6 linked regions of the Homo sapiens genome follow. The protein of the gene in region 6 purifies or fractionates together with the protein of the main gene of each other region. This does not show direct contact. Each region holds a gene or a part of one and is shown on either strand. Other genes may lie near its edges.

Region 1 (4,404 bases), on a different chromosome or scaffold from region 6:
GTGAAGAGTGAGTGACGGTGTTTGTGAAGAGTCTTCCTTTTGCCCAACTTACTAACCTCTGGCCTTCCACACTTTCACCTATTTAATCAGTATTTGCTGGGCACTCACTGCGTGTGAGCCCTGCACTGGGTTCTGGCGATGGTCATGGTTTCCAGCCGCCAAGGAGCCCACCAGGGGGAAAGACAGACAGTGAAAAAGTAAATAGCAAAGCTGACTGAGTATTACGAGATACTGAGTATTGACTGGTGGTGCTTGACGTCCTGGGGACACTTGAACAGGGGCCAATCCTAGACTTGGGGTGCTCGACTCAGGGACAAGGGTGCTGCAGGTGGTCAGGGAAGCGAATACGAACGTTCATCTGAGACCTTACTGTTGAGTGAGAGCTGGACAACGGAGCTGGGGAAGAGTGTTCCAAAATGGGGACAGAAGGTGGAAAGCACCTGTGGAGGTGGAACTTCCCCTCCCCGCGGTATCCCCAGCATCTAACCTGAGACATCAAGTGCATTCAGAAGTTATCTGTTGAATGAGCAAATGAGGAACTGGAAGAAAATCATTGAGAGAGAGGAACCAGAGATGAGGCCGTTGAGGGAGGGGCCAGAATCCAAAGGCTGAAGATTTAGTAAAGTGTTCTGAACGTTAGCCTAGAAGCCACGTAGGGGATGGCATACCCACGTGATGTGACTGGATCGTGTGTTGGGAAGATCATTCCGGCTGCAGTGTTAAGGTTGCGCTGAAAGCTGGCAAGAATCCCTGGAGGAAGATGAGTTAAGTGTGTTGAAGGAAGGAAGGCCACCGCTCAGCATCAGAAACAAAAAGCTGAATTATTGTTTGCTTGTAAGGGAGAACCCTGCTTGTGGGACATGGTCTGAGAAGAGCAACCTGCTGGCCTTAAATGGGTAAAATTATACACTTCAGGAATTACTGGACTTTCAGAAGCAGGGCTCAGGGCTCGACTGGCCCTGGTCATGGAAGTGCAGGTACCTGAATGTAGCTGCTGCCCATATCTGAGCCCAGAGGTGTGGGGACTCTGCAGACTGCCATTGACTAAGTGTGACCAACTTAAAACTGGCTCTGGGGGTTTGTTTGTCATTATGGCCATAGAATAGTCCTTTCCTTTCTTGAACTCAGAGTGTGAGGACTCTATTCCCAGTAGCTTTTGCACTTAGGCAGGCAAAAGGAAGCTGAGGTTGGGCTCGGCGGATGGCAGTGGACAGGGAGGCAGGTGTCCCTCAGGGTCCTGACTCCTGACCTGATGTGGGGGAGTATGTGGATGGTGTCACTGTCTGGGGGACAGTGCTGTGCCATCTCCTGTACAGCCGACTGAGGGTTTCTGGCTTTGCCTGGTCAAGGTCAAGCCTCAGTGTGGCTGGTTTGACTGGACACATAGGGAAACAGTTTCTTTGCAGTGGGAGTTGTTGAACCCTGAGATTGAACGACAGAGGATCACGTTAGGAAGCTGTGCAGGTGTCTTGTTTCCTGTCTGAGGCAGGTTGGGTGAAGTTCTGCCTCAGGAGTGTGACTATGGAAGCCCCTCCATCTGTATTGTGGTCAGTGAGTTGTGGTTGTTTTTGGCAGATAAAGACTGTGATGTTTGACAAGACTGGCACCATTACCCATGGCGTCCCCAGGGTCATGCGGGTGCTCCTGCTGGGGGATGTGGCCACACTGCCCCTCAGGAAGGTTCTGGCTGTGGTGGGGACTGCGGAGGCCAGCAGTGAACACCCCTTGGGCGTGGCAGTCACCAAATACTGTAAAGAGGTACGTGGACTTGGGCGTGGCCCTGCCCTCCCCGCCAATGCTCTTTTATTCCTCACCATGTCCTTCTCTCCTAGCTGCCCTCGAGGAGCCTTCTCTGTGTGGTCTGGAAAACCACTTAGAGGGCCCTTCTGCAGCAGGCGGAGATATAGGGCTCACAGTCAGCCCTTGCCACAGTTCCAGGTTATCACAAAGGGAGTTCAGTGTCACAGGCATTTGCTGAACATCACCAGGCGCCAGGCTCAGGAGAACAACAGGAGTGGGATATGAACTCTACCCTTTGGGAGCTCACGGTCTTGGGGAGTACGGGCAGTCTGGAAACTCAGTGCTTTGACAGTGCTTAGTGCAAGGGGACACAAACATGAAATGGGAGTACTGGGGTGGAAGGGAGAAATCTACTCCCCTGGGAGCACCTGGGACAGAGAGGAACCAGCAGAGGTGAGCCAGAGTGCCCAGCAGGTTCCTGGCACTTCGTGGAGAAGCATTGCCTTCTTTTGGTCTCTCCACAGGAAAGGTTCTATTTTGTTTTCTCTTAATTTCAGTCTGAATATAGGGGCAGCAGAACGCGTCACACAGAATATTGCCCTGACAACTTTTAAACAGCCTGAGCAATACTGTTAGCAGTAAATGTAGAAAGGTGACATCATTGCCTTGAAAAACAATTGACAACTCTTCCTGATCAGGGGCTCTTCCAGAAACCTCATTTCTAGTTTTGTCCTTCATGTAGGGTCAGACAGCCCACTCTTTCTCACCTCACCCTTCTGACATTTCAGGGAGAATCTTGCTCACCCTCAGTCATCCTTTATTTGTTGTGTGGTCTGGAAAACCGCTTAGAAGGGTCCTCTGCAGCAAGTGGAGATGAGGGGCTCACAGTCAGCCCTTGCCACAGTTCTAGGTTGTCATAAAGTGAGGTCGGTGTCACAGCCATTTGCTGAACATCACCAGGCGTCAGGCTCAGGAGAACAACAGAAGTGGGATGTGAACTCTACCCTTTGGGAGCTCACAGCCTGGGGGAGGACGGGCAGTCCAGAAACCCCAGCCATTCCTTTACCCTGCCACCTTGTCCCCTCCTCCTCCAGGGTCTGATATACAGGCAGTTATCTCTTGATAGTCTCAAAGAGCTTTGTTAACACTACTTATTCCATTGTTTTTAATGAAATTATTTGCAACATAAAATTCACATCTCCCTCTCTTTGGCATCTGCAGTCCTCTTTAATTTGAGGTGTTTGATATGAGTTGCCTTTTTCCTTTCCAGTCGGTAACCTGTTCACTGTCATGAGGCACCCACCCAGGGAAGGATTTTAGGCTGTTTAAAATAGTCTCATTCAACTTACAGCTATAATATCTTTACCAAAGGAGGGAGAAATAATTACAAGTTACTAGTCACTATCTTAACCTTTCCTATCTGTTCCACCTCCCTCCCCTCCTTTCTCTCAGTTCCCGCTTTCCGCTGCTCTCTTGCCACCTTCACCCTGTGTCCCTGTCCTGCCTGCCCCTCCCTTTCACTTCACCCCTCTTGGCTTACAGTTTCCTCTTCCTCTCTTTCCACCTTCCCAGGAACTTGGAACAGAGACCTTGGGATACTGCACGGACTTCCAGGCAGTGCCAGGCTGTGGAATTGGGTGCAAAGTCAGCAACGTGGAAGGCATCCTGGCCCACAGTGAGCGCCCTTTGAGTGCACCGGCCAGTCACCTGAATGAGGCTGGCAGCCTTCCCGCAGAAAAAGGTATTGCTGGCTTTTGTCTCTGCAGCTGGTTAAAAGTAGAGGTGGGTCAAACCACAGAGAGCACCACGCCCAGCAGTGATTGCCTCTGCTGTGCGGCAGACGGTTCATGGCTAAGGCACCCAAGCCTGCCTCCCCACACCCAGGAAAGTTTCTCTTATGTTCTTGGGTGCGTCTAAATTTTGTTGCTTATGGCTGCCTTAAATTCATAGAGCATTGTTTAGCTGACCCATGATTTTGATTCTCCTCTTTCTTATCCCATATCGGTCTTGCTTCTCATAAGCTACAGAGTAGACAGACGGGAATTCCACTTTCGTTCTTCCTGTTTCCATTCTGTATGGTAGAATTCTGGTATTTACAAAGCAGGCAGAAAAAGTCAGGGAAAGCAGAGGGAAATGTCTGCCCAAGCCAGGAAGGGACACTGCTTGGAGGGACAGCTGCTTTTGAAGAATGGCCTTTTTTATTCTCAAGGTAGCTTGCCAGCCACCAGAATAAAGGGTGGAAAACACTCAAAATCTGTGACTAGTGTTTTTCCTAAGTGTTGGTAGTGAAATTGTGGCTTAGATTGTGTGGTTAGAAGCCATCCACCACCTTCCAGCCTTTAAAACCCCAGGATGGCCTTTCCATGAGAGCTTCCAGAGCCTGGCCGTTCAGTGACACCTCAGCTAGCAGCACACGCTGTTAGAAAGTGATAGGTGAGAGGTGCATTAGCCTCGGGAGTTACAGTTTTAAACATTTCATGTAGACGTGTCTGATTATTTGTTGATTCACCTGGGGTTGTTGATACCAAGCAGTAATGAATGTAGTCAACACTTGCTTTGTGTGCTGGGCAAATACCTGAGTGCTTCTAATCCCTGCAGAAAAAGAATCAGTGGATACTTCTAAGACAAAGACGGACATTGCCTTATGTTTAATACGTTTATACC
Region 2 (5,066 bases), on a different chromosome or scaffold from region 6:
CCCGAACGCAATTTGTGAAGCCCCTGTGCAGATCGGGGAGGGGCTCCTGCAAAAAGCAGAAAACAGCAGCCAAGGACGCTGCCTGGCTGGGCTCCTGGGCCTCCTGGCTGGCCCACCAGAGCCTCACCTGGATGGATATCCAAGGTCAAGAGGAGAGCCCTTGCCCCTGGGTGCTTCAAGCATAGGCATGATCCGGCCTGAGCTTTAGGCGAAGAGGGTGGATGGCCCTTGGCTCACTGAGGCCACTTCTTGTTTGAGGAATTTTGGAATTCCTCAAATTCTGAGGACAGTGGAATTCTAAGGTTTGGGGAGTCCATGTTTCAACAGCTTCTTTTAAAAGCAGCCCGAGGAGAGGAGGGGCGGCCTTCATGGTCTCAGGGGCAGCTGCAGACCCTCGCTGAGGCTGTGGAAAGCCTGTCCTCTCCAGATGGGTCAATCGGTCACAGCGGCTGGGCTGGCCTCCTCATGCCCAGTTCTCCTCCCCAGAGCCCAGGACCAGGGGGTGGGGGTGAGGGGTCGGGAAGTGCTGTGGTCAGGAGGCTGGGAAGGCAACGGTACATGGCCTGGCCAGCAAATCAGCTATAGAAGGGACCCCCAGTTCCCAGGCCATGGATGGGTACTGGTCCATAGCCTGTTAGTAGCTGGGCCGCACAGCAGGAGGTGAGCAGCGGGGCAAGCATGACCGCCTGAATTCCACCTCTCGCCAGATCAGCGGCAGCAGTAGATTCTCACAGGGACGAGAACCTTGTTGTGAACTGTGCACAAGAGGGATCAAGGTTGAGCACTCCCCATGAGAATCTAATACCAGATGATCTGGGGTGAAACAGTTTCATCTGGCCCACCCACATCCGTGGAAAAATTGCCTTCCATAAAACTGGTCCCTGGTGCGGAAAATGTTGGGGGCCACTGAGCTGTAGGATGAAGAGGCTGAGATAAGGGGACACCAGAGGAGTTCTGGGGTTCATGTGGCTGGCAGTGTCTGGTGCGGTTCTGGGGTTCGGGTGGCTGGCAGTGTCTGGTGCAGTTCTGGGATTCGGGTGGCTGGCAGTGTCTGGTACGGTTCTGGGGTTCGGGTGGCTGGCAGTGTCTGGTACGGTTCTGGGGTTCGGGTGGCTGGCAGTGTCTGGTACGGTTCTGGGGTTCGGGTGGCTGGCAGTGTCTGGTGCGGTTCTGGGGTTCGGGTGGCTGGCAGTGTCTGGTGCGGTTCTGGGGTTCGGGTGGCTGGCAGTGTCTGGTGCGGTTCTGGGGTTCGGGTGGCTGGCACTGTCTGGTGCGGTTCTGGGGTTCGGGTGGCTGGCAGTGTCTGGTGCGGTTCTGGGGTTCGGGTGGCTGGCACTGTCTGGTGCGGTTCTGGGGTTCGGGTGGCTGGCAGTGTCTGGTGCGGTTCTGGGGTTCGGGTGGCTGGCAGTGTCTGGTGCGGTTCTGGGGTTCGGGTGGCTGGCAGTGTCTGGTGCGGTTCTGGGGTTCGGGTGGCTGGCAGCCTCCTTGGTACAGTTCTGCGACCAGGGTTTGGGTCTGTGTGCTGGACTGTTCAGCAGAATGAGGGCATTTTTCCTTCCATCTAGGAAGGCCTCAGTTCCCTGATCTTTTTTTTTTTTTTGAGATGGAGTCTCGCTCTGTTGCCAGGCTGGAATGCAATGATGGGATCTTGGCTCACTGCAACCTCCGCCTCCCGGGTTCAAGCGATTCTCCTGCCTCAGCCTCCCGAGTAGCTGGGACTATAGGCGTGCACCACCTCACCCAGCTAATTTTTTAAAAAATATTTTTAGAAGAGCCGGGGTTTCACCATGTTGGCCAGGATGGTCTCGATCTCTTGACCTCATGATCCTCCCGCCTCGGCCTCCCAAAGTACTGGGATTACAGGCGTGAGCCACTGCGCCCAGCCAGGTTCCCTGATCTTTTAAAGCAACCTGTTTCTGCTCTTGGGCAGGCACACTGTGGGCGGGAGTTGGGCAGTGAGCTCGCCATTGCTTGGGATGTGAGCAAGAGCTGTTTGTGTGGCAGCAGGGGGACCTCCTCCATGGGCGGACTCAGGGCTGTACTAATAACAGTGAACCAATTTGGGTGGTTCTGTCCTCCCCAGAGCTTTGCCCAGCTGTAGGCGCCCTCCTTGAGGAAGCCCTCCAGCCCGAGGCCCCATCCCTCACTGAAGGACGCAGGCAGACCATGCGTGAGCCTGCAGAAACCAGGCCGGAAGAGGTCGGAGGGATTTAGTAGGAGTTTATTGCCAGTCTGTGTCTGGGCAGCGGTCACCGGACTTTGTCCTTCCTCTGGGGCATAGGTTTCCTCCAGAGGACCAGGAGGACAAGGGTATTGATAGCAACCTGCACGTGGCCGAAGACGGGGACGCCAAAGCTGCGGTACAGGAGGCCGCCGACCGTGGGTCCCAGAGTTCGGAGCAGTGGTTGTACAGAGGCGCAGAGGCCCAGCATGGTCCCTGGGGGGTGCATGGGGGTAGTCAGGCCCTGGGCAGCTCCCTGGGCCAACTGCCCACTTCCTGAACACAGCCATGGCCTCCCATCTCTCCTGACCCACCCTGACCTCACGGCGCAGTCCGCACCTTGCATAGTCTGGTGAAATACTCCCCTGAACACCCATCCTTTCCACCTGCCAGCTTCTAACCTCCAGTCCCCCACCCCCTGCCACCCGCCCAGCCTTTGGAGCAAACACAGCTCTCTCTACCCACTGGTCTGTTCCCCGAGGACCTCTCAGCCATGCAGGGTGCTTCCCAGGGCATTGGGCTGAGTCTCTTCCCTGCTCCAGAAAGTTTCCAAGCACAGGAGGAGCCTGGGAATGGGACCACAGGTCACCGCAGAAGGCCCCGCCCTGCCAGGCCTGCCAAGGGAGATGGCATCTGTGCCTGGGGCCCGGAACCTCCCGCCCAGGCTGTCAGGGAGCTGGCTCTCACGGCTCTTTCCCAGGGTGCCTGCCACCACCGAGGGCTGGTGATGCAGTGGGGAGGCTAAGCCTGGCCTGTGAGACACCGTTGGGGCTTGAGTTCAGAGTGGGCATGACACCCCCATCCCACGGCCCCTCCTGGCCATCAGCCCTTCCTCCAGCCGCCCCACCCTGCGGAGCTCCTACTACTCCATGGAACTCCCCCTCACAGGGCTGGGAGGGGCTTTGGAAGCCCATGCAGGGCCCCTCCACCTGCCCCTCCTGTCCCCAGAGCAAGACCGAGCGGCTTCCGAGGCTCCCCAGACAGCCCCGACCTGCGCAGCAGCCTGCTCTGTCCCTGACACCGCATCTCCACGCCCCTGTGGCCAGCTACCCGCAGCATGGACGGGCACGTGGGCACTATCTGTGGCTGTTGTCAACACTCGGGCAACAAGGGGGGCAGCACTCGCCAAGCGGGAGGACCCCCCAGGACTCCAGGTGGGAGGACACTGCCTCTGGTCCCGTGCCCAGAGGGTCTCTGGCTCCAGGGACTTCAGAGCCCAGGTCTCCTGGAGTTGGAACTCCCAGGGCTGGTCAGCTGTGATGAGGAGCTGGCCAGGCCCCACCTGGGCTCAGGGCCCAGCATGGAGGACCATTAAGAGCAGCCTCTTCTGCAGACTCAGGGTGCAGTTCCTGCCCCTTCTGTCGCTGGGTTTCCAAGCTGCTGCTGGGAACCAGATGCTGGCTCCTACCAGGCCAGGGGTGGTGTCTGCGCATGACGTGGCCCAATGGCCTGGGCCTGGTCTCCCTCAGCCTCCAGGGGCCTCTTCCCAGCCAGGCCGGGTCCTCATCTCCCCAGGCCTTCCTCTCCTGTGCCATCCTCCTGGCCTCTCCAAAGTGCTGCCCAACCTCCTCCAGGAAGCCCTCCTGGCTCAGCCTGCATCAGCCCATGCACCATGGAGTCACAGTCCCCGAAGGCCTTGGAGGTTCCCAGGCAGCCCTGAGAATAGGCCTGCCCTTTGCAGCCCGGCCACATCCGGGCCTCTAGACCTTGGTCTGCTGCCTCCCAGACAGGCAGGTGGATGGAGTGTCAGATGTGTGCCCTGAGTTTCTGGATCTGCTGCCTCCCAGACAGGCAGGTGGATGGAGTGTCAGATGTGTGCCCTGAGTTTCTGGATCTGCTGCCTCCCAGACAGGCAGGTGGATGGAGTGTCAGATGTGTGCCCTGAGTTTCTGGATCTGCTGCCTCCCAGACAGGCAGGTGGATGGAGTGTCAGATGTGTGCCCTGAGCTTTCTGGATCTGCTGCTGGGGAGGCCTGGAAGAATCTCCAGTACTCCAAAGGACTCCTGAGTCCTTTGACCTCAACCAGCCCACAGGAGCCCCCTGCACTGGCCAGTGTGTACCCACACTGTGCCTGGGGTGGGGCAGGAGCCTGGATAACATCGGGCCCAGGACACCCCCAGTCTGCATGAGCGGCTCTCTTCGGCCTCAAGAAAGAAAGCTGGGTCGGAAGTGGGGACTGGGGGAATCTATGTCTAGGGGACCTGTGTCCCCTGCAGTGGCCTAGGGGATTCCTGGATTTAATTACTGGTATGCATTCATTCACTCCCTCATTCATTCAGGAAGCTCCTGAGCACTTGTGTGCCCCACTCCCCGTGCTGGGGGAGGGCCCAGAAGTCCCCGGGGCCTCCAGGCCTGGCAGGCAAAGTCCTCAGGTGCTTCTCAGGGCCAAGCCAACTGCCACCTGCGGGCAGCCCCCTCCCAGGCCCCTGGCCTGCCCCCAGCTGGGCTAGGTGGTAGGGCAGGAGTCTCATGCAAGACCCAGGCTCCCCACCTTACTCATCCCACACAGACCCCAAGCCCCCACCCCACCCACTCCACTCAACCCACACAGACCCCAGGCCCCCCACCCTACCCACCCCACACAGACCCTAGGCTGCCCACCCCATCCCCACCGGGTAGCTCCTAGGGCTTCCTGGAGGAGGCTGCTCCACTCGCTGGCCACACTCACCTGTGTCCGAGGTGGAGACAGCCTTGATCAGCATGCTGTCGGTGACCACGTTGAGGGTGCAGAGGCTGAACACCAGGCCGGGCACCAGGAGGCAGAAGTGGAAGACGCTGGACATCCAGGCCTGGGACGGCAGGCGGGGGCCGAGCTGAGTGGGGGCCTCACGGGACCAGGCTCCT
Region 3 (5,331 bases), on a different chromosome or scaffold from region 6:
GGAGCTCATCTTATGGAAGTGAATACACTGTGCCCAGTGAAAGCTGACATTTCAACTAAGGGAGGATTTCCAAGTCATTAACAAACTGTTTCTCTTCCCAATCTGTGATGTTTTTCCCAAACCAAACTTCTTTACCACATTTACGAATTTTAAAATTTTATATATATGAAATTTTATATATATGAAAACTATATATATATAGTTTTGTTTATATTGCCCAGGCTGGTCTTGAACTCCTGGCCTCAGACAATCCTCCTACCTCAGGCTCCCAAAGTGTTGGGATTACTGGCATGAGCCATCGTGCCTGCCAGGAATTTAAGGGGTTGGTCACTGAATCTCTGATGCAGCAGGGCCTTTCATTTTATTTTTTGAGATGGAGTCTTGCTCTGTCGCCCAGGCTGGAGAGTGTAGTGGTGTGATCTCGGCTCACTGTAACTCCGCCTCCTGAGTTCAAACCATTCTCCTGCCTCAGCCTCCCAAGTAGCTGGGATTATAGGCGTGCACCACCTCACCCAACTAGTTTTTGTATTTTTAGTAGAGACGGGTTTTCACTATGTTGGCCAGGCTGGTCTCAAACTCCTGACCTCAAGTGATCCGCCTGCCTCAGCCCCCCAAAGTGCTGGGATTATAGGCGTGAGCCACTGTTCCTGGCCGGCAGGGCCTTTTAGAAACTATTTGTCCTAGTTCTTCCAGTATAGGGAGGGCTGGTCAAATCTCTCTCAGGCCAGAGGCCACTGAGCCTCATTCTGAACGGCTTCCTTTGCAAGGTTCCAATGGAAAGTTTAGCTATTCATTCTCCCAAAAATATTTACTGAGCACTTAGTATATGTCAGGTAATATAGACAATATTATTGCCCTCATGGAGCTTATATTCCAGTGGGGAAGACAGAAAACAGATATATTATGACAGGTATCAACAAGTGCTATATATTAAAAAAAAAAAAAAAGATGAAAAGGGGACAGAGAGAGGCCAGAGTGGGTAGAAGCCAGGCTCCATCAGACAGGTTGGTCAGGGAAGTGCCAACTGAAAAGGTGACATTGTTATGACAGGAAATGGGGTCAGAGCATCCCAGGTAGAGAGACTACAAGTGCAAAGACCCCAGGATGGGGAGTGACTGGATCTGATTTGCATTTTCAAACATTATTGGCTGACGTGTGGACATCTGCCTGGAGGGTACAAGAGTGGAATGGAGCAGAGAGACTAGTTAGAAGGCTGCCAGGGGGGTCTCGCTGGGAGACGATGGTGGCTTGTTCCAGGGTGGCAGTGGTTAAAAAAAGTGAGAAGTGTGTGGATTTGGGATATTTTTTGAAGGCTGTGTAAACAACAATCCTTACAGTCCAGGATATTCTTTTTTTATATTTAAGTCATTTTTTTCTTCGCTCTTAAGACTATAAAGGAATCTGAAAAGCCTAGACACACAGGGAAATTATGTTTTATATTTTCAAGTTACATGATTGATATGTTTTCCTTCCATATCCAGATACCTTTTACAGATGAAACAGCCCTAAATTTAAAGCTACTGATTCATTCACCTGAGAAGGTGTAATGAATACATTCCCTGAATTTCTAGACTTTTTAGATACTTTGTATAATAACTCTTCCTACTTTATTGAATACATGTAACTTAGCCTTCCCGATTCCCACCAATCCATTTCCTCAATACTCTGTACTTCCCTACTGTTTAATTGTTATCCTTGCTCCTTCCCAAGACCTCCAAAGACTCACCCTGTGTGGAATGCTTTAGTAGGGACAGTCACTCTTCCATATTCTGTGCTTCTGTAAAGTGACCCAGTCTATCCCAGACGCCTGGCTAAACTGTGCTCATCCTTCAGGTCTCAGCTGAAATGTTACATCTTAGGGAAATCTTCTCTGACCACTAGGACAGGCTGGCACATCTGACAATTTGGTGCTAAAGTGCCCTGGACTAATACATCATATTAGTATGATTACCATCACAGTCACTAATCAGTGTTTTTTTTTTTTTTTTTTTTGAGACAGAGTTTCACTCTTGTTGCCCAGGCTGGAGTGCAATGGCATGATCTCGGCTCACCGCAACCTCTGCCTCCCAGGTTCAAGTGATTCTCCTGCCTCAGCCTCCCTAGTAGCTGGGATTACAGGCATAAGCCACCATGCCCGGCTAATTTTGTATTTTTAGTAGAGATGGGGTTTCTCCATGTTGGTCAGGCTGGTCTTGAACTCCGGACCTCAGATGATCCGCCCTCCTCGGCCTCCCAAAGTGCTGGGATTACAGGCATGAGCCACCATGCCCGGCCCAGTATTTGTTAAATGAAGAATAAGTTCTCAATGTTACAGGGCAGATGTCTAGTCACCCTATAGTAAAATGAATCATGATCCTTCTATTGTAATAACAAGCAGAGGCAAAGCCTTAAGTCCTTACTTCCTCTGTCGATGCGACCGTTTCACAGGGCAGAGTTCATGGAACAACTTCTGGCTGGTGAGCCTGGCTGCCAATAGATATTTGTTTCGGGTGATGAAGTCGTCAATGATTTGCTTCTTCATACCTCGGGCCTAGAGAAAAACCAAGAATCAGCTAGATTTTATGCAGTGTTCTCAATGCAAATAGATGGGCTTTCTTTACTTACCAGCTTAATAAAAACGTAGCTGACCTTGGCTAAAGTAATATAACCAAACAAGACAGACCTGTTTGAGCGAATAAACATGTGGTGATCTATTTCAGCAATGCAGGGCTGAAAGCAATGATGCAGCTATTTCGGGTCAAAGGGAAAATCAAGTACACTTTCCACTGGAGAATTTTTATTCACTGTTTTATGCTGACAAATTAAAAAAGTCAGTCATGGCCGGACGTGGTGGCTCACATCTGAAATCCTAGAACTTTGGGAGGCTGAGGTGGGTAGATCACGAGGTCAGGAGTTTGAGACCAGCCTGGCCAACATAGTGAAACCCCGTCTCTGCTAAAAATACAGAAATTAGCCAGGCATGGTGACGTGTGTCTGTAGTCCCAGCTACTTGGAAGGCTGAGGCAAGAGAATCAGTTGAACCTGGGAGACGGAGGTTGCAGTGAGCCGAGATCACGCCACTGCACTTTAGCCTGGGCGACAGAGCGAGACTCCATCTCAAAAACAAAACAAAACCAAACACAAAACAAAACAAAAACCCAAAACGAAAAGTCAATCATTTTGAATTTTAGGCAAAATTATTTCCATTCAGGATTTGTAGCGAACTGGGCAATTAAAAATAAATCCCAAAGCAACAATGTTGCAAAGTATAAAAGGCAGGTTACAAAACCGTGTGACCATTTTATTGCTAACTTTCACACATTTCAAAGGATTGAAATCATTGACAGCAGGTATTCTGACCACAAGGTAATTAACCTAGAATTCCATTTAAAATGCAAACCAGAAATGTAAACATTTCCCTTTATGTTTGGAAATTAAGAAACACGGCCAGGTATGGAGGCTCATTCCTCTAACCCAAATGCTTTGGGAGGCCAAGGCAAGAGGATCCCTTGAACCCAAGAGTTAGAGACCAGCCTGTGCAACATGGAGAGATCCCATCTCTACAAAAAATTAAAAACAAACAAACAAAAGGCCAGGCACAGTGGCTCACTCCTATAATCCCCGAACTTTGGGAGGCCGAAGCAGGAGGATTGCTTGAGCTTAGAAGATCGAGACCAGCCTGGGCAACATAATGAGATCTTGTCTCTACTAAAAATAAAAAAACATTAGCCAGGCATGATGGTGGTGCATGCCTGCAATCCCAGCTACCTGGGAGGTGGAGGTGGGAGGACTGCTTGAGCCCAAGACTTAAGAGACTGCAGTGAGCTAGGATCACACCACTGGACTCTAGCCTGTGTGACAGACTGAGACCCTGTCTCAAGAAAAAAAAAAAAAAAAAAAAAAAAGGGCTGGGTATGGTGGCTCATGCCTGTAATCCCAGCACTTTGGGAAGTCAAGGCAGGTGGATCACTTGAGGTCAGGAGTTCAAGACCAGCCTGTGCAACATAGTGAAACCCTGTCTCTACTAAAAGTACAAAAATTAGCCAGGCGTGGCCTTAGTCCCAGCTACTCAGGAGGCTGAGGCAGGAGGACTGCTTGAGGCTGGGAGAGCATACCAGCCTGGGCAACGGGAGTGAAACCCTGTCTCATAAAAGAAAAAAAAGGAAAAAAAAAGTTGTTAGCTGGGCATGGTGGCATGTGCCTGTAGTCCCAGCTACTTGGGAGGTTGAAGGGTGAGGATCACTTGAGCATAGGAGGCCAAGGCTGCAGTGAGCCATGATGACATCACTACACTCCAGCCTGGGTGACAGAGCAAGACTGACTAAAAAAGAAAAAAAAAAAACCAAAACAAGAACGCCTATCAGATATTAGAAAATATTTTGAACTTTAATGACTGATGAAAAATACTATTTATAAGAACTCTGAGATACATATAAAGTAGTACTTGAAGGGGAATTTTACAATTAACATAATAGAAAAGAAGTTAATGAAATAAACATCTGTCAAGTCAAAAACAGCAAAAATATAAAAGTAGAAAGGAAATAATACAGATAAAAATAGAAATTAATGAAACAAGAAATGAATATATTAATATAAGAAGAAGAATTAACAAAGACAAAACTGGTTCTTTGAAAAAGCTAATACAATCGACAAGCCTCTGGTAAAACCAACCATGAAAACAAAAGAGAAGGCATAAAATAATCATTCTCAAAGATGACAAGAAGGAATCACTACCTACAATGCAGAAGTTAAAACAGAAAACCTAAATAATCAGTAGTCAAAAATCTTTCCTTAAAGCGAAACCCAGAAACCCAAGCTCAAGGCCCAAATGGCATTACAGATGCTTTCAATCAAACTTTCAAGGAAGACAATCTCACATAAAGTCTTCCTGAGAAGAGAAAAAGCAACACATGGGTATCACGATAAGGAAAAGTTAGAAGTCAATCTCATTTCTGAACATGAATGTCAAAGTCCTAAGCAAAATGTTAGCAAATGGAATCCAGCAATATATTGAAAGCATAATAGAAATCATAATCTTGTTGGATTTATTTCATGAGTGCAAGTTAGGTTTAACATTAGAGAATGAATTAATATGAGTTAGCACAATATAGATTAAAGAAGAAAAATCAGAATAATCTAATGGATGTAGAAAAAGTATTTGATAAAAATCATACCAATTGTGGTTAGAACTTTTAGTCAACAAGGAGTAGAAGGACCTTCTTTAACCTGATAAAGGGTATCCACATTTTAAAAGCCTTCTGCAAACACACTTATTGGGGAAATGCTGAAAGCCTTCCCTCTCTTTGAAATCAAGAACAAGGACAGCCCCCGATTACTACACTTCTATTCCAC
Region 4 (5,331 bases), on a different chromosome or scaffold from region 6:
AGTATAATTAAAAAAAAAAAAAAAAAAACAGGCACTCAGCACCATAAGAGAGGGGAAAAAATATATGTGTCTAGCTTTTTAATATGTATATAAAATATAATGTATAAGAAAGAAAATCCACATAGCTTTCCATAACAGCATATATCCCTTTCTTTTTAATGGCCACATTATATATTTCACTGGATGGATATACCCATCCATCTGCTTCCCAGCTGGGGCAACAGAGCAAGACTTCCACTCTAAAAAAAAATTCAAAAATTTAAAAAAGAACTCTTTAATCTGACACATATCTCCTAATAGTCTCCTTGTCACCAGTTTATAGTTTTCACTCCAAACAAGCTAATTCTATCTTTATCCATTTTTTTTTTCCTTTGGAGACGGAGTCTCACACTGCCACCCAGGCTGCAGTGCAGTGGCATGGTCTTGGCTCACTGCAACCTCTGCCTCCTAGGTTGAAGTGATTCTTCTGCCTCAGCCTCTTGAGTAGCTGGGATTACAGGCACGTACCACCACGCCCGGCTAATTTCTGTAGCCTCCCAAAGTGCTGGGATTACAGGTGTGAGCCACTGCATCTGGACGTATCTTTATCCTTTTACATAAAGTATCCTATAGTGCTGAAATATTCATAGTTTTATTAATTTTTTCTGGTGGTTTGCTACCTTAGGAAGATTTTCTTTCCCACCTACCCCCTCGTTTTTCCTACCGTAATTCAGCCTTTTCAGCTTCAATCTGAAGGACGGCCATTGTTCTTTCATATATCTTTTCAGGACTATCATAGAAATTACGGGCAATCCATCTTGATATGGGATGCTACAAGAGAAAATTCGTTTAATATTAGTCCATTTCTGAATAATACTTTGCTTTTCTAGTTGACTATTCTTTAAAATGATCATTTCAGTTAGATAAACCAGTAACATCTACTATGTAACTAATATACCTATATATAAAATAATTTTAACAGATGAGGTGGATACTATTTTTGTCCGCATTTTAAAGATAAGTGAATTGCACAAAGTTACGTAGCTAATAAATGGCAGCACCTGGACTCAAACCAGGTCTGTCTGACTCCAAAGCTGTGTACTCTTTTCCATTACACTATGCTGAGTATCTTAGGTGGCAGATTCAGAAGACAAACCCAGGTTTTGGTAATTCAAAAATGGAGCTCTTTGCACCAGTTAGCATAAACAAACTAAGTGTAAGGTCTGCCTTAAGATTTAATGGTTTAAGATTTGTATTTAAAATATAATTCATTCAGATAATAAAACATGATGGGATATACTCCATTCAAGGCTCACAATAACACTTGTTAAAACAAGTAACAAAATTAATTTTGGATTTTGGTAGCAGTGGCAGTATGGTATAATGACCAACAGTTCAGGCTCTGGAGTCAAAGTTGCCCGGGTTGAAATAGTGACCCCATCTAGACAGGTCACTTAACTCTTTTAGCCTCACTTTCTTCATCTACAAAGAGGGAATAATAATAGTACATTTTACATGGGATGAAATAATAAATATTTGTAAAACACTCAGCACAGTACCTGTTACATAGTAGGTGCTCAATAAATGACAGCTAGCATTAACATTGGTGAAGTCTCTCCTAAGGCATTGAACTTAGGATAAATTATGTTACTCTGTTAGGCTGAGAACACACTGCAATCATTCTTTAAAAAATTGTAAAGCTTAAAATGATTTTTTTAAAAATGAAGTACCAAAATTCGTTGTTTATAAAAAGTATGCAAAAAAATGTATCTGCTTGATATAAAAAATGAAATATAAAACTCTATCATGGCTGGTCACAGTGGCTCACACATTTAATCCCAGGACTTTGGGAGGCTGAGGTGGGTGGATCACTTGAGGCCAGGAGTTCCAGAAAAGCCTGGCCAACATGGTGAAATCCTGTCTCTACTAAAAATACAAAAATTAGCCAGGAGTGGCAGCACACACCTGTGATCCCAGCGACGTGGGAGACTGAGGCATGAGAATCGCTTGAATGCGGGAGGCAGAAGTTGCAGTGAGCTGAAATCGCGCCACTGCACTCCAGCCTGGGCAACAGAGCGAGATGCTGTCTCAAAAAAAACAAAACAAAAAACCTGACTATATCATAATTGCTGAATTAAGACATTAACTAGTGCGTTGACAAGGCATGTAACAGTATGTAATTGTCAATGTCCTATACAAACCTTATAATATTCCCAGTGTTCTGGGACATAGCCTTCTGGAATTTCTGCTAGTTCAGCTTGACCTAATAAGAAAAAATGGTTATGTTTAACTTTAGCATGAGGAGTTTATAAAATTAATTATTCACCATTAAAGTAAGAAACCAACTTCTTGTGGTTTTAAAGGATTCTTTAAAAAATTTGTACCAATGAAGATATGTAGTATTTTTAATTCACTTTAATCTGGTTGAAAATCAATTCATTTGTTAGACATTTTTAGACATCTCTCTGTGTAAGGCATTATTTATAGGTATTCCATGAGTTTCTCATTTTGTTTTTCTATACTGTAACAAGATATAATAAAAGACATATTATTCCTTCTGGTCTTCCCTATACCTATGATACAAAACATTTTAGGATTCAAGGTGTTAGAAGTACTTTGAACAAAATTTCCCACGAAAATCTAATGTTTACTGTCATTGACACTTTCAGTCTTTGTAAGAGGATTATAGTTTTTTTTTGGGGGGGGGACAGAGTCTCACTCTGTTGCCCGGGCTGGAGTGCGATGGCGCCATCTCAGCTCACTGCAACCTCCACCTCCTGGGTTCAAGCCATTCTCCTGCCTCAGCCTCCCGAGTAGCTGGGATTACAGGCGCCTGCCACCACGCCCAGCTAGTTTTTTGTATTTTTAGTAGAGACGGGGTTTCACTATGTCAGCCAGGCTGGTCTCGAACCCCTGACCTCATGATCTGCCCGCCTCGGCCTCCCAAAGTGCTGGGATTACAGGCGTGAGCCACTGTGCCTGGCCGAGGATTATAGTTTTATATGTTCTAGGATGGATTAAAAAATTCTTAGTTCAGATTGAGATTTGGTTATTTTAAGATAAACTGCCATGCTTATGCTTAATTATTTAAAGAGCTTTTCATTACAATATCCATAATTTCTTTTTTATATTAATGTACATATGTTTAAAAATTTTTCCAATCTGGTGGTGCTGGCAGGGGATGGAAGTGACTTACCAATGAATACATTCACCAGAGTTATGAAAATTGCTACTGGAATCCCAGTCAATGCAATGTAGAATCTCTAAGATAAAAAAAAAAGTGTTTCTCATGACCATTTCGTAACTCTCCCCACACACAAATCATCCTCATGATATGATTTCCTCATATTTCTTATAAAATAAACTTGCCAAATTGGGCATACAGTACCAAATTATTGATTTCTGTGATTTTACTTTTTGGTAAAGCAATGCCATGAAAGAAAATAATATGTTAAGAACAAAAGTCTAAAAGCATCAGGGTGATTTCTACCACTAAATAGGATTTGAGCTGGTCATAACAAGAAAAGTAAGGGCTCAACCAAGGAGATGAAAAAGGTCATTAAACACAACGGAAGGGCAAGAGAAAGTTTTAAGGTCAGTACTCAAATGATGATTCAGAGCTTTATCTACCGTGGCAGATGGTCCAGACAATCTCCCATTTTCTAAGCCTCTACTTTGTTCGTATAGAGCCTTGAGACAGAAATATAGTCAGCATTCTAAATAAGCAATGTAATTATATTATTGCTAAATTAAGATTGCACTATAGATCCCTGTTACTCTCTGAAATAAATGTTCCTGAACAACATATAAATATAAAATCATATCCCAAAATAATGTAGCTCCTTTATTTAAGCAAGTCTTTCAACAAGTTCTTTGGTAATTTAAAGAATATTTTAGTTATAGGAACACAGATTCTATTTCGAAACGCCATAATCTTCAGAAGAAAGGAATGGTTCAAGTTTTACCTCCATTTAGTGTAAATCCTTTTGTGAAGAAGGAAAGCTTCACTAATTTAAAGAGAAATTCAATAACAAATCAGACTTTACAGTCTCAGTATCTTCTACAGAAAGAAATATAAATTTACAAAATAAAATATTTCATAAAATGAAAGATGTTTTCTAAAGAGGCAAAAATTTTTTCCCTGTTACATGCAAAGACTTTAATTCAACAAAAAATTTAAACTTACCAATAACTTCAAAAAACGCCTGTCATAGAATCTAGAAGGTCTGATGACAAATAGTCTTTTCCCATGGTCTCCACTGTGTCGAACAGGAGCTGGGAATATTGAATTACCCTGTTTTATACAAGGTTCATATGGGTATACTGTTATATTCTGAGTTAAAATCAGATTATAAAAAAATACAAGGATCCTTTTGTAGCTCATAAGCAGGATGACTGGGTTTTCACACTCAGGTGTGAGATGTGCCTCCCTCAAACCTTGTTATGAGGTAGGCACATTACCCATCTGACATGAAACAAAAAGAAAATATACATTCTTAGATGTTTAATATGAGTTAAGATTTTAAAATGTCTTATTTGAGTAATAAGGCCAGGTCAGATAGGGTATCTTTAAACAAAGATGGATCTACTGTTCTAAAGCATAACTTTCCTCATTTTAATTCAAAGTTAAAGTATCTAAATAATCATTTTAATTTGTTTCAATAGCAGGCAGGGAGGTTAGGTACTTAATGAGCTGCTCATCTGTGTCTCCTCTGCAACAAATATTTGCTAATGCTGCAAAAGAAATACATTTAATTTAAATTATTCCATTATGCCATTTCACATGACACATTATCTGTATTATATGTATTATTATGCTGCAAAATAGATGGAAAGGACCAGCCGTATTTACTCAACAAATCACCAGCAGGAATTAGAACTTGTTATCAAACTACACACTCTAAAATATCTTGATAAAATCACGTGGTAAACCATTGCTGATTAAGAATATCCTCTTCAAGTCTCCCCCTGACAGAATTTAATCAAGCCTTGCTGGAAGTAAACTGAGGCAAAATTTCACTTCTGGATCCTCTTTTTATATTCTTCCTCTTGAAGGTCTGCAAGGATCACTAGAGGCATTCCAAGCCCTTTCCACTGGGAACAGGAAAGGATCTAGCTGTTACTTAGAAACTGAAGGTTCCTATCTTTTCACTGTGTAACTACTCTCAAGGATATTTTGCATGTGAGTCACTGTAGAATAAAAAACTTTAATTTCCCATTAAAGGAATTTCAGTCATAATAGATGTCAGAAAGATCTGAATCTTTTGTTCATGTTTAATGTCTGGAATGCTGTCCCCTCTCCTGAAATCTATGTTAGGCCCAGATAACATCTTATCTTCCAAGATGCCAACA
Region 5 (5,331 bases), on a different chromosome or scaffold from region 6:
GAATCGCTTGAACCCGGGAGGTGGAGGTTGCAGTGAGCAGAGATCGAGCCACTGCACTCCATCCTGGGTGACAGAGCCAGACCCCATCTCAAAAAAAAATAAATAAATAAAAATAAATGACGCAGAGCAATACCTTGTCCCCCTGCTTCCAGGGGTTCCATCTCACAAAACTATGAACAGTATCACAGCCAGGCTCTCCCACCACGACGGTCCACCAAGCTCCCCGGGGTCATCCCATGACACACGCGCAGTGTGTGCCCACCGCAGCTGAGGCAATCCAACCACAGGCTCCCTCCGGCTGTCTCCTTCCCCCATCCTTAACCCCTAGCAACCACGAATCTGTGTTCCATCTCTTTAATTTTTGTCTTTAGAGAATGCTGTATAAAAAAAAAATCATACGGCATGTGATCTTTCAGCTCGGCCTTTTTTCACTCCGTATAATTCCTTCTGGGTTCACCCGCGTTATCAGTGAGCGGGGCCTTTTTTCCACTCCGTGTAATTCCTTCTGGGTTCACCCGCGTTATCAGTGAGCGGAGTCTTTTTTCCACTCTGTGTAATTCCTTCTGGGTTCACCCGCCTTACCAGTGAGCAGGGTCTTTTTTCACTCCGTGTAATTCCTTCCAGGTTCACCCGCGTTATCAGTGAGCGGAGCCTTTTTTCACTCCGTATAATTCCTTCCAGGTTCATTCGTGTTATCAGTGAGTGGTGCCTTTTTTCACTCCGTATAATTCCTTCCAGGTTCACCAGTGTTATCAGTGAGTGGTATTCCAAGCAAATACTTTTCGGGCAACCACTACTTACAATCATTCTGCACGGCTGGCAAAGCTGTTTCTAAGCCACATTCAGTATCGTTCTTTCATTTAAGGAGGTGGCAAAAGAATCTTCATCTGAACAGACGCCATGCAGTTCAGCATCAGACCAGGGAGAAGGCCTGCCTGAGGGCCGGGACTGTGTTGTGCCTGTCTGATCAAGTCAGCAGTCCTGAAAATCCACACAAACCAACTCCCGCCGAAACCACAGCAGAGGGCCCAGGGGAAACCCAGAATAGGTTCTCACAAGAAAGATTATTTGGCTCAGTAAACAATTATCCTCTAACGCAAATTTAACAGACATTATTTTCTCCAAGCAAACTATAGTTCAACCCAAAACAGAATAAACATAAAACAATCACTTGGCCGGGCGTGGTGGCTCACGCCTATAATCCCAGCACTTTGGGAGGCCGAGGTGGGCAGACCACAACGTCAGGAGATCGAGATCATCCTAGCTCACATGGTGAAACTCCGTCTCTACTAAAAACACAAAAAATTAGCCGGGCATGGTTGCGGGCACCTTTAGTCCCAGTTACTCGGGAGGCTGAGGCAGGAGAACTGCTTGAACCCACGAGGTGGAGTTTGCAATGAGCCGAGATCGTGGCATTGCACTCCAACTTCGGCAACAAGAGCGAAGCTCCATCTCAAAAAAAAAAAAAAAAAAAAGACGACGACAATTACTCAGATGCAGGAGAGACACGCATGTCAGCTACACGCAGCCTCATCCATAAGCAGATGCAGGGCCCAGGAGAGCAAAGGGCATGGTGACTGCCTGCCCTTCCTCACGCCAGGGCACCTGCCAATGCAGCAACGACTAGGATTTCACTGGACAAGCACCTACCACATGCCAGGAGTGATAACCAGGAAGCTGCCATGGCTTTGCCTTGCCATGGCAACGGAGGCTGCCATGCCATTCCTTCCAGGAACCATGACAACGGAGGCTGCCATGCCATTCCTTCCAGGAACCATGACAACGGAGGCTGCCATGCCATTCCCTCCAGGAACCATGACAACGGAGGCTGCCATGCCATTCCTTCCAGGAATCAGAGTTATTAGTGGGGCACACGTCCCTGGTTAACCGTAACACAACACACAAGGCTGAATGCAGAATCCGCACAGGCCACACAATTCTTCCCTCTTCTATGACAGGTGACCCTTCAGCAACACAGGAGTGAGCTATGTATGATCACGGACACGTGGATTTTCTTCCACCCCTGCTACCCAAGACAACAAGACCAGCCCCTCGTCCTCCTCCTCAGCCCACTCAAGGTGAAGGCCATGAGGATGAAGCTCTTTATGGTGATCCGCTTCCACTGCATAAATAGGAAATATATTTTCTCTTACGACTTTTTTCTTTTTTCTTTTTTTTTGAGACAAGAGTCTCGCCGTCGCTTTTTTCTTTCTTAATTTTTTTTTTTGAGACAGAGTCTTGCTGTGTCGCCCAGGCTGGAGTGCAGTGGCGCGATCTCGGCTCACTGCAAGCTTCGCCTCTTGGGTTCACGCCATTCTCCTGCCTCAGCCTCCCGACTAGCTGGGGTTACAGGTGCCCACCACCACGCCTAATTTTTTTTTTTTTTTGTATTTTTAGTAGAGACAGGGTTTCACCGTGTTAGCTAAAATGGTCTCGATCTCCTGACCTTGTGATCTGCTCGCCTTGGCCTCCCAAAGTGCTGGGATGACAGGCATGAGCCACCACGCCCGGCCTTTTCTTTCTTAATTTTTTATGTTTGAGACAGAAAGGTCTCACTCTATTATCCAGGCTGAAGTGCAATGGCACAATCTCAGCTCCCTGCAACCTCTGCCTACCAGGTTCAAACGATGCTCACGCCTCAGACTCCGGAGTAGCTGGGATTACAAGCACGTACACCACACCTGGCTAATTTTTTTTTTTTTTGGTATTTTTAGTAGACAAGGGGTTTCACCATGTTAGCCAGGCTGGTCTCGAACTCCTGGCCCCAAGTGATCTAACTTTCTTCTTTTATTAAAAAAACGAACGGCCGGGCGTGGTGGCTCACACCTGTAATCCCAGCACTTTCGGAGACCAAGGCGAGTGGATCACCTGAGGTGAGAAGTTTGAGACTAGCCTGACCAACGTGGCCAAACCAGGTCTCTACCAAAACTACAAAAATTAGCTGGGCTTGGTGTTGCATGCCTGTGATCCCAGCTATTCGTGAGGTTGAGGCAGGAGAATCACTGGAACCCAGGAGGCAGAGGTTCCAGTGATCTGAAATTACGCCATTGCACTCTAGCCTGGGAAACAAGAGTGAAACTCCAGGCTGGGCACGGTGGCTCACACCTGTAATCCCAGCACTTTGGAAGGCCAAGATGGGCAGATCGCCTGACATCGGGAGTTTGAGACCATCCTTGCCAACATGGTGAAACCCTGTCTCTGCTAAAAATACAAAAAATTAGCTGGGCGTGGTGGCGCACGCCTGTAGTCCCAGCTACTCGAGAGGCTGAGGCAGGAGAATCGCCTGAACCCAGGAAGCAGAGGTTGCAGTGAGCCGAGATCGTGCCATTGCACTCTAGCCTGGCGACAGAGCGAGACCCCATCTCAAAAAAAAAAATAATAATAATAATAGTAATAATAATAATAGAAATGAGGGTCTTAAACTCCTGGGCTCAAGTGATCATCCCACCTTGGCCTCCCAAAGTGCTCAGATTACAGGTGTGAGCCACCGCACCTACCCAGCAAATTTTTTTTTATAAAAAGGTCAGCCGGGCGTGGTGGCTCACACCTGTAATCCCAGCACTTTGGGAGGCCGAAGTGGGGAGATCACGAGGTCAGGAGTTCAAGACCAGTCTGGCCAACATGGCAAAACCCTGTATCTACTGAAAATACAAAAATTAGCTGGGCATGGTGGTGCATGCCTGTAATCCCAGCTACTCAGGAGGCTGAGGCAGGAGAATCGCTTGAACTCAGGAGGCAGGGGTTGCACTGAGCCGACATCGCACCACTGGACTCCAGTCTGGGCAACAGAGCGAGACTCCGTTTCAAAAATAAATAAATAAATACAAAATAAAAGTTAAAAAAAAAAAAGGTCCAGGGCTGGGTGCGGTGGCCCACTCCTGTAATCCCAGCACTTTGGGAGGCTGAGGCACGCAGATCACGAGGTCAGGAGATTGAGACCATCCTGGCTAACACGGTGAAACCGAGTCTCTACTAAAAATACAAAAAATGAGCCGGGTATGGTGGCGGGCACCTGTAGTCCCAGCTACTCGGGAGGCTAAGGCAGGAGAATGGCGTGAACCTGGGAGACGGAGCTTGCAGTGAGCTGAGATCACACCACTGCACTCCAGCCCAGGCGACAGAGCGAGACTCCGTCTCAAAAAAAAAAAAAAAAAAAGGTCAAGGCCAGGCACGGTGGTTCACACCTGTAATCTCAGCACTTTGGGAGGCCAAGGTGGGTGAATCACCTGAGGTCAGGAGTTTGAGACCAGCCTGGCCAACAAGACAAAACCTCATCTCTACTATACAAAAAGAGGGCCTGACGCGGTGGCTCACGCCTGTAATCCTAGAACTTTGGGAGGCCAAGGTGAGCAGATCACAAGGTCAGGAGATCGAGACCATCCTGGCTAACATGGTGAAACCCAGTCTCTAATAAAACAAAAAAATTAGCCGGGTGCGGTGGCGGGTGCCTGTAGTCCCAGCTACTAGGGAGGCTGAGGCAGGAGAATGGCATGAACCCAGGAAGTGGAGCTTGCAGTGAGCCGAGATTGTGCCACTGCACTCCAGCCTGGGCGACAGAGCGAGACTCCGTCTCAAAAACAAACAAACGAACAAAAAACAAAAAATTAGCAGGGTGTGGTGGTGAGCACCTGTAATCCCAGCTACTTCGGAGGCTGAGGCAGGAGAATTGCTTGAACCCGGGAGGGGGAGGTTGCATTGAGCTGAGATCGCACCACTGCACTCCAGCCGGGGCAACAGAGTGAGATTCTGGCAAAAAAAAAAAAAAAAAAAAAAAAAAAAAAAAGTCAAAGGACACACTTTATTGAAATGTTGAAGTATACAGGGAAAGAGCCCTGAAATCAATTCAGAACAATTTTGTATGAAGATTCAGAAGTCTTTTAGAAGATAGTTCTGAGTGGCTGTAAGCATTGACACTTACCGTAAAACCAACAGTAAGCTGAAGATGAGCCTAAAGCCAGAAACGCCTAAACTGAATCCACCTGCGAAACACTGGTGTCCCTTCCCGCAGTTATGACCTCCCCTCGAGAGCTCAGTAGGGAGAGTCAGAGCTCCTCTCTCACAGAGTAAAGCTGTCCCTGGCCTTGGCAAATGCAGCGTCTCACACAAAATCAATCAAGAAGGACGTCACTCCTGAAACAAACTCCTGCTAAACTCGAATTCACAATAATAATCCCCTCATCCAATAGCTGAACCATCATTTCCACATCCTGAAAGCTTTCCTGAAAAGCAACATGGGAAGAAAAAGTCCTTATGACAGTTCCTCACTCGCCTTCCAAGGCCAGGTGCCTTTCTAGAAAGATGAGCTCTGCTGAGCAGGGCGTCCATCTTAAC
Region 6 (2,226 bases):
CCAGCAGGTAATAAGGGATATCAGGAGCGATTTTTCACCTAATACAAGGGAAATAGTTTATAGTACTCATGTCCCCTTGGTATGAAGTTTAGACTCTTAGATACATGAGTAATGATCACAGCATTTGAAGTTCTTAAAAGCTATCAACATCTTATCCAAGGTTAGTCCTTAGTGATCCATTATAGCTGTGTATAGTTGTTTAATTTGATGAGAAAGAAAACACTTCAAAAGATTTTAAAGTGCTATGCGCCTGAAGCCTCTAAATAAATAGTTGAATTTACATGATAAGCCAATTATGGGATGTTTATAAAAGAGTAATTAATATACTGTCAAAAGGGAGTGAAATATGAAAATATAACATATAAATATGTGTAGGTGGGAATGGGGGCAAAGTTGGCCTCATAATTTTAGATCTGTTACAGGTACACCAAAAGCTAAATAAGTAATATTAATTATTCACATTGACTATATCTCAAGTGATGAAATAAAAGAAACAGTGGTTGTATAGAGTAAAATTTATTATAGGGTTGTAGAATTCATACAACCTAAACTCCTTACAGCATTCAGCACCTACACAATTTTGTGCATTCCACAATACAGATAGTAGTGAGAAAGAATCACTGCATTAGTTAAAAATGACTGTCTCATGAAAATTGTTCACATATAAGTCAGGTTAATTACAGAGCACCTAACAGAACTGCAAAGATGTAATTTCTAAATTCAAGAAAGTTGTACAAAATGAAAAACAAAAGAAACCAACAATGTTGAGATCTGATATATTTTACACAAAAAGTTCAAAAACAATTTAAAATATTTCAAATTTTAAAATTGCTCCACCATAAGATGAATAAAGAGCTTACTTAAAGGAAAAGAAAAAACAAACAAACAAAAAAAACAACGGATGGAATTTATTGTCAGGATGTTAGGTGATATATTCATGCTGCTTTCAGAAATCTAAACCCTATAAATTCAAAGAAAAAATGAAACTCATGTAATTTCAGTTTCAAAAAACAAGCAATGCCAATTAAACTAAAATTTGACAAGAGCTTGCAGTGGTTAGTAGTTTTTTTTTTTCCTTTTTTTAAAGCATAAGCAATAGAGTAAATGCATGAGTAAATATCTTGAGTATCCCATAAACCTTAATGTTAAAGTCATATTGTAAATCTCTGACTTCTTATTACCAAGGACACTCTATCTGTTGCCTCTTACTCTTGACAGATCTTGGTCTCAACAATAAATTCGTTGGGGAAGTGTCTAATCTTCCAGCATTTATCAATGGCACGTTTGTTGAAACCTGTAAGGAAATGTGCAAAAAAAGTGGCTTTTGAAATTTTTGTGGAAATGAAAATATATCCAGACTTGTTCCCCACTTTTTCCTGTATTCTACCTCCACTTTCTTCCACTGTGTAACACAGGGTGAAGGAAGGAATACATTAGTTACTTACCCAGCAAGAGGTCTCTGCGACGAAGGCGGAAGGACTTTCTGTTATTGCAAAGTTGGTAAATAAAGATGCCAAGGTTACTAACATCACGAATTTCCTCCACAGCAACTAGGTCTTCTCGAACCACATAAGTTTGAGGCAGATATCTGCCACTCTAAAAATCAAAAGCAAAGATTGAAATGAGAAATTCTTTTTCCTTTTTAACTTTGAAGTTCAGGAGTAAAAGTGCAAGTTTGTTACTTAAGTAAAGTTGTGTCATGGGGTTTGTTGTAGAGATTATTTAATCACCCAGGTATTAAGCCTAGTACCTACTGGTTATTTTTCCTGATCCTGTCCCTTCCCCCATCTTCCACCCTCTGAAAGGCCCCAGTGTGTGTTATTCCCCTCTATGTGACCATGTGTTCTTTGCATTTGGCTCTCACTTAAGTGAGAACATACGGTATTTGGTTTTCTGTTGCTGTGTTAGTTTGTAAGGATAATGGCCTCCAGCTTTATCCATGTCTCTGCAAAGGACATGATCTTGTTTTTTTTTTGTGATTTTTTTTTTTTTTTGGCTGCATACTATACCATGGTGTGTATGTATCGCATTTTCTTTATCCACTCTATCATTGATGGACATTTAGGCTGATACCATGTCTTTGCTATTATAAATATTGCTGCAATGAACATACTTGTGCATGTGTCTTTATAATAAAATTATTTATATTTCTTTGGGCATACACCCAGTAATGCGATTGCTGGGTCTAATAGTATTTCTGTCTAGGTCTGAGAAATCACCACAGCA

The links.
Region 1: the proteins of ITM2A (region 6) and ATP7B purify together in Homo sapiens (affinity purification with mass spectrometry; 2 studies listed by BioGRID and IntAct, with this or other methods). This does not show direct contact.
Region 2: the proteins of ITM2A (region 6) and SLC67A1 purify together in Homo sapiens (affinity purification with mass spectrometry; one large-scale study listed by BioGRID and IntAct). This does not show direct contact.
Region 3: the proteins of ITM2A (region 6) and DNAJC16 purify together in Homo sapiens (affinity purification with mass spectrometry; 2 studies listed by BioGRID and IntAct, with this or other methods). This does not show direct contact.
Region 4: the proteins of ITM2A (region 6) and NDUFB5 purify together in Homo sapiens (affinity purification with mass spectrometry; 2 studies listed by BioGRID and IntAct, with this or other methods). This does not show direct contact.
Region 5: the proteins of ITM2A (region 6) and SPG7 purify together in Homo sapiens (affinity purification with mass spectrometry; one large-scale study listed by BioGRID and IntAct). This does not show direct contact.

What each region holds. Positions count from the first base shown.
Region 1 is NC_000013.11:51,941,463-51,945,866, reverse strand, and holds part of ATP7B (copper-transporting ATPase 2), read left to right. Parts: intron 1-1,575; coding exon 1,576-1,758; intron 1,759-3,312; coding exon 3,313-3,481; intron 3,482-4,404. UniProt on the Homo sapiens protein: Copper ion transmembrane transporter involved in the export of copper out of the cells. It is involved in copper homeostasis in the liver, where it ensures the efflux of copper from hepatocytes into the bile in response to copper overload.
Region 2 is NC_000011.10:2,922,381-2,927,446, reverse strand, and holds the end of SLC67A1 (solute carrier family 67 member A1), read right to left. Parts: intron 5,012-5,066; coding exon 4,891-5,011; intron 2,438-4,890; coding exon 2,250-2,437; 3' UTR 2,201-2,249; downstream 1-2,200. UniProt on the Homo sapiens protein: May act as a transporter of organic cations based on a proton efflux antiport mechanism. May play a role in the transport of chloroquine and quinidine-related compounds in kidney. Plays a role in the regulation of lipid metabolism.
Region 3 is NC_000001.11:15,556,725-15,562,055, reverse strand, and holds part of DNAJC16 (dnaJ homolog subfamily C member 16 isoform 1 precursor), read right to left. Parts: intron 2,531-5,331; coding exon 2,400-2,530; intron 1-2,399. UniProt on the Homo sapiens protein: Plays an important role in regulating the size of autophagosomes during the formation process.
Region 4 is NC_000003.12:179,613,894-179,619,224, reverse strand, and holds part of NDUFB5 (NADH dehydrogenase [ubiquinone] 1 beta subcomplex subunit 5, mitochondrial isoform 1 precursor), read right to left. Parts: intron 4,451-5,331; exon of another isoform or gene 4,347-4,450; intron 4,255-4,346; coding exon 4,166-4,254; intron 3,243-4,165; coding exon 3,176-3,242; intron 2,243-3,175; coding exon 2,181-2,242; intron 811-2,180; coding exon 704-810; intron 1-703.
Region 5 is NC_000016.10:89,513,761-89,519,091, reverse strand, and holds part of SPG7 (mitochondrial inner membrane m-AAA protease component paraplegin isoform 1 precursor), read right to left. Parts: intron 1-5,331. UniProt on the Homo sapiens protein: Catalytic component of the m-AAA protease, a protease that plays a key role in proteostasis of inner mitochondrial membrane proteins, and which is essential for axonal and neuron development.
Region 6 is NC_000023.11:79,359,884-79,362,109, forward strand, and holds the end of ITM2A (integral membrane protein 2A), read right to left. Parts: intron 1,597-2,226; coding exon 1,446-1,596; intron 1,295-1,445; coding exon 1,206-1,294; 3' UTR 501-1,205; downstream 1-500.